Regions from separate parts of the Homo sapiens genome. Here region 1 is linked to region 2. Evidence: fine-mapped expression QTL. A gene starts in region 2. The other region holds a variant in brackets. All regions are shown on one strand. Distances are between the middles of the regions. Region 1 overlaps PRUNE2 (prune homolog 2 with BCH domain). Region 2 holds the start of PRUNE2 (prune homolog 2 with BCH domain).

Region 1 (2,914 bases), 200 kb after region 2:
CAAGCTTCCCAGACACATGTCAGCCAGCCTCCTTAAATGAAAGAAAAGGTCTCTCTGCAGAGAAAATGTCTTCTAAAAGCGATACGAGATCATCTTTTGAAAGCCCTGCACAAGACCAGAGTTGGATGTTCTTGGGCCATAGTGAGGTTGGTGATCCATCACTGGATGCCAGGGACTCAGGGCCTGGGTGGTCTGGCAAGACTGTGGAGCCGTTCTCTGAACTCGGCTTGGGTGAGGGTCCCCAGCTGCAGATTCTGGAAGAAATGAAGCCTCTAGAATCTTTGGCACTAGAGGAAGCCTCTGGTCCAGTCAGCCAATCACAGAAGAGTAAGAGCCGAGGCAGGGCTGGCCCGGATGCAGTTACGTTGCAGGCTGTCACCCATGACAATGAATGGGAAATGCTTTCACCACAGCCTGTTCAGAAAAACATGATCCCTGACACGGAAATGGAGGAGGAGACAGAGTTCCTTGAGCTCGGAACCAGGATATCAAGACCAAATGGGTAAGCAAAAAGCTAGATTTATTTTTTTTCCTGAAAAGCAATTTATTTAGAAACCTGGGAAATGGTTAGAGGTTATGGAATATGAGGAATACCTGGATGATAGCAGCTTTGCTTATATTGAATGCAAGGCACACCATCAGTAAAAGCAGCTACTAGATAACTATAACCATAATGATAATTTATGTACATTTTCAGCCAAAAAGCCCCTTCAATTTTCATTCAGTCTTATACCTACCCCCCAACTGCCACCCCACCTACTTGAATACCTACATGACTCTTCAACAGGCAGTTGGGAATACAAGGAAGTGACACTAACATTTAATCAGCACCTACTATGTGCAAGGCAGTTTGCATACATTATCTCATTTAATCCTAACATGCCAGTGGGGGGAATGGAAGGAGTAGGGTTGAGTAGGGGGATTCAAGGCTCAGAAATTTTCTATAATTTGCCTAGAATTAAGTAACCAGAGTGAACACCTGGGATTCGAAGCTTGCCACCTCCAAAGCCTGTACTTTCTCAGTTGACACACCGCTTAGCATACAGAGGCATTTTCATATTTTCAAATACAAGGCATTTTCTGGTTTTATGTAAGCACCTAACTTATAGTTAGATAAGAGACAGGCTCCACAGCAGTCTCCAAATCTCAGTGTAACACATTCATTCCCTAATTGGCAGAGAAATTGGCAAACTGTCATTAAATCAGTGATTCATTCATTCATTCATTCACCATGTGGTTTTTGAGAGCTTGCTCTGTGCCGTGGTTCTGGGTAGCCAATGGGCATATATCAGGGAATAGGATGTCATCACTGCCCTCAAGCTTCCAGTCTCTGCTGAAACTGTTTAGCATTCTTCATTTCTCTTCATTTGTGTTTATGAAGCCCACCTGCTTCCAGGGACAAAAGAACAAATTGTGAAAAGTAACTTAAGTAACGGGGAAAGTCATGTTTTCTCCTTAAAATGTAATAGAGAAAAGATATCGGCCAGGTGCGGTGGTTCATACCTGTAATCCCAACACCTTGGGAGCCCAAGGTGAGTGGATCACTTGAGGTCAGGAGTTTGAAACCACCCTGGCTAACATGGTGAAACCCCGTCTCTACTAAAAATTCAAAACTTAGCTGGGGTGGTGGCAGCACCTGTAATCCCAGCTACTTGGGAGGCTGAGACAGGAGAATTGCTTGAACCTGGGAGGTGGAGGTTGCAGTGAGCCGAGATCGTGTGACTGCACTCCAGCCTGAGTGACAGAGCCAGACTCCGTCTCAAAAAAAAAAAAAAGCGAGAAAAGATATATTTTTGCTACTCAGCTTGGGAGT[G/A]TAAAGGACTATACACATCACATACCCACAGTGAGTCAAGGAATCTGGATTCCAGCCTGCCTCTACCATGACTGATTATACATTTTAGGATTAATCCCAGGCTTAGGTTTTCTCATGCGTAAAATTAGTGAGTTGGGCTGAAAGATCTCAAGGCTTCCTGCAGTATTAAATTCTGGGAACTTAATTTGTGTGGAAACAGAATGTGTCCAGGGGAGCTTTGGCATTCACAAATTACATTTCTTGATGAAAGGAACAAGGACAATGGAAAGAATAGCTGGGGTATGTTGAGGATTAGCCAAGTGCAGAAGGGGTTAAAAGCTCTACCATATTCCAGGGCAGCTTCATAAATCCAGACATTGTCAGCTGGCCTAATCCTTCTTTCTTCCTGTCAAGCTATTTTCTTCCAGAGAGACCCCAGATCCGTTATCAGAAAGAGAGTAGCAGATGGATCCCAGCAGCCCTGCTGGCATTGTTATAGATTGAGCTCAGAACTCAGGCAGCCATGAGTTGGCTGAGCTATTGTTTGGCTTCTTGTGTGCATTTTGCACATGCCCCGAGATCCAACAGATGACAGTCAGTGTTCAATTGTGCCACCAGCACCTTTTCTTTCAACAAGATTTCTTTGCTCATCCCTTTCTGCTCAGCTTTTGTAGTACTGAAACTTTTCTCACAATGGGGATGGGGCAGATTTTCCCTCCGGCATGTGTATTATCTTTTGCATAAATAATTTACTGTGAATGTGTAAGTCTCCCTCTGTGCTAGATTTTGGGAGAATAAAGAGTTGTCTAAAACTGTGGTTCTCTAAGTGGGGTCCTAAGAACAGCAGCATCAGTATCACCTGAGTACTTGTTAGAAATGCAAATTATCGGCTCCGACTCAGACCTCCGGAATCAGGAACTCTGGGGGTGAGGCCCAGCCAGCTGAGCTTCAGCAACTCCTGATGCCCTCCAAAGCTTGAGAACCACTGGTTTAAAACATACTGTCAGCCGTCTAGGAGTTTACAGTTTAACTAAAGAGTTAGACATAAGTAAAAAGGTAGATAGCAGTGTAATATTTAAGTCAAGCTAGTCAATGCCCAATGTCAGTTTAAGTATAAAATGG
Region 2 (2,914 bases):
GTTTTTGGATCAGCAGCATCGGCAAACCCTGGGAGATTGTATACATGGACATTCTCAGGCCCATTAAGCCACACCTATTAGGGCTAAAATTCTAAGGATGGGGCACGGAAATCTGTGTTTCATCAAGCCCTCTAAGTGATTTAGATACATGTAAAGTTCATCGAGAATCAGAGCATCACACCTGAACTGCACATTAGAATCACTTGGGTCACTTTCCACAGAAATGCTGTGGCCCCATGCCCAGAGATATTAATTTAATTGGACTGGGATAAAGCCCTGGTATCAGTACTTTCTCAAGTCTCAGGTGATTACGATGTGATTTTACTGTGCAGTCAGGGTTGAGGCTACTTCTGTAGAACAGCTGAGGCTGGGGGCTAGGACAAGGGCTGGAAGGATCTTACAGGTGGTGTGCAAAAGCCCAGAGGTCAGAGAAAGCCTGATGTAGTGTGTTTGGGGACCGGACAAGGCTACATACAACAAAACCCCATGATTTAAAATAAGGTTTGTAGATATAAGTTCATTTGTTCATTGTAGTACTTCTTAAACTTTAACAAGCATAGAAATCATCTGAGGGTCTCATAGAAACACACAGATTCTGATTTGGTAAGTAGGAGCAGGGGACTGAGGTTCTGCATTTCTATAAGATCAGCGATGCTGATGTTGCCGGTCTGCAGACTGCACCTCACCTTAGCAAGGTTCTATTGCCCCAGCTTTCCCTGAGGGTACATGTCAGTGGATGGGAACTGCAGAAGGATGTATCTATGCATTAGTCCCAGGGCTGACATAAGGGCACCTAGTTGGGGTGAACTGTGGATGCCCATTGTTGTGTGGACATGTTTTCATGGTAGGGAGGAAAGACGCAGCCTCGCCCAACCTCCTAGCCTGCTCTTCTGATTATTATCCATCAAGGTCGTACTGCTTTTAGCTCAGCAGTAACTCCCCTCTTTCTCTCCTCGTCCCTCCCACGCCAATCTAGCTGAGTGCCTCCCCCGGCCAGGCCAGCCGACCAGATCATTAAGTGACCGCCGGAGTGCTCCGTAACGCGCCAGCCAGCCAGTGAGGCGCTGGGCGAGGCGGGGGCTCTCCTGGGACCCGTCTCCCTCTTCCCACCTTCCCCCGCTGACCGCGGCGGTGCCTGCGGCAGAGCCTCCCTCTGCAGCAGCCCCTTGCACTTGGCTCGCACTTCTGGGCGCTGTCCATGGTTGCAGCAGCTTTCGGCGCGCCACGTCAGGAGGCCGCAGCACGGCCCTGCGATTGGCGGAGGAGCCCCTCGCCATACCCCTGCACCTCCGCCCACGCGCCACGGCGCCCGAGGCGCGTGCCAGAGAGCGTGCCCGGCGCGCCCCGGGGCTCCTGGGCGGCACACCCACTTTCCTTATTAGGGCAGAGTCGGGTGCCCAGAGCCGGCGGCCGGGCGAGGGGTGGGGCGGGGAGCCCTGGGCGAGACGGTCGAGGGCGCAAGCACAGCCTCCGCCGCAGCCGCCTCAGAGCGGCAGGAGGGAGCAGTCGGTCGCTGCGCCCCGGCGGGCCACTTTCCCGGGACCCCGCTCGTCTTCCTTGGGCCGAGATTTTCCACTGCGCCCCTCCGAGTACCCGGGTTCCAAACCCCTAGCCACGACATGGAAGAATTTTTGCAACGCGCCAAATCTAAACTGGTAAGTTGAGTGAGCAAAGCTGTGTGTGTGCGCGCGCGCGTATGCTAATGGAAAGGTGGAGAGGAAAAGGTGTTGCAGCAGAGGAGGAAGAAACAACTTTGCCACGGAGTTATCAGGGTGTGCGGGTTGTCTCCTGGAAGAAATCTCAGGAACTCTGGCTCTTAAAGCTGGCAATCTGTCTCCAGAATCCTCCACCGCAACCAGACGAGGTGCAGAGCTGAAGGAGGTTGTGGCCTGGCTGAAGTTGGGTCGCTTCAGTCCAGCTTCGGTCCCTAAATCAGCAGTTTGCTCCTGAAAGCTAAGGGATAAATGGGTGTGGTCTTCCTTGAGATAAAGAGCCCAGCCTTCTGCAGATGCATTACGTGTAAGTGTAAAAGGAAAAAAAGAGACCCTTAGAACTGTACTTCAGCTGGAGGTGACAAAAGTGAGGAAGTCAGGGTGCTGGGTAGCAAGGACATGTGTGGTACTGGAGAATCCACAGAATAGAGCTTGCTCCACTGCAGGAGTTAGGGATATTCTAGTGTGTCTTGTGTCTCGCTAATTCCTGTTCACATCTGTAAATTGGGGCGGAGGCAGAAGGGGAAAGCTCTAACTGTTGGTGTTCTGGAGTTTACCAGATCATCGTTCTCCCGGGAGCAGACCTGTGTGTTAGCCCATGTTTACCATATCACTGTCCAAACAGTGAATGGGCAACTCCACTGTGTATGTTAACAGTTGCTACACATTCTGAAACAACAGACTCTAGCAGTTTCTTAATTCCAAACTGTTTTGGCTCTCCAGCACAGCAGTAATAAACATAATGGAAATGTTTCTGTTTTGGCAGAAAAAAAAAGAAAAGCCTGTACTCATTTAGAAGCAATATCTTTAAAGAACTGTAAAAGCACCTTTTACAGGCCTGGCATAGAAAGAAATGCATAATTTATGATGCCTTTAACCTTTAAGCCTTCATAGAAGCCAAAATGTAAAGTCTGCATTAAGGTAATGTTTTAATCACAAGGCAGGATATTTGCAGGGTTATTACTGTAACTCATTTACCCTCGCACAACAAAGGGAGTGCAGGAAGGGAGGGCCCAAAGATGCCTGAACCACCATTCAGAGTGCAGACGGAAGTGTGATCCTTACAATGGTCTAACTGTAACTATCTTGTAAAAGACCATTAAAGTTGATAAGTGCTTATATAAAACTTTCTACCTGAAACCTCCCAGAGAGTTGAACGTTTGTGGAGATTTCCGAGTTGAGGAAGTTTGTGATCATCTCTG

The links. PIP is the estimated chance that this variant, and not a neighbour inherited with it, causes the effect.
Region 1: its variant is fine-mapped to the expression of PRUNE2 in T cells (TOPMed, PIP 0.95).

Annotation. Positions count from the first base shown.
Region 1 is chr9:76,700,925-76,703,838 of GRCh38, reverse strand. It overlaps PRUNE2 (prune homolog 2 with BCH domain), which reads left to right. Exons shown (of 19, transcript NM_015225.3): 9 at 1-502. Among named protein-coding and RNA genes, the nearest start is that of PCA3, 62 kb to the left of the region's middle. The variant G/A (reference allele first, on the strand shown) is at 1,814.
Region 2 is chr9:76,904,669-76,907,582 of GRCh38, reverse strand. It overlaps PRUNE2 (prune homolog 2 with BCH domain), which reads left to right and starts at 1,469. Exons shown (of 19, transcript NM_015225.3): 1 at 1,469-1,655. The coding sequence starts at 1,620. RefSeq lists a silencer at 1,340-1,399.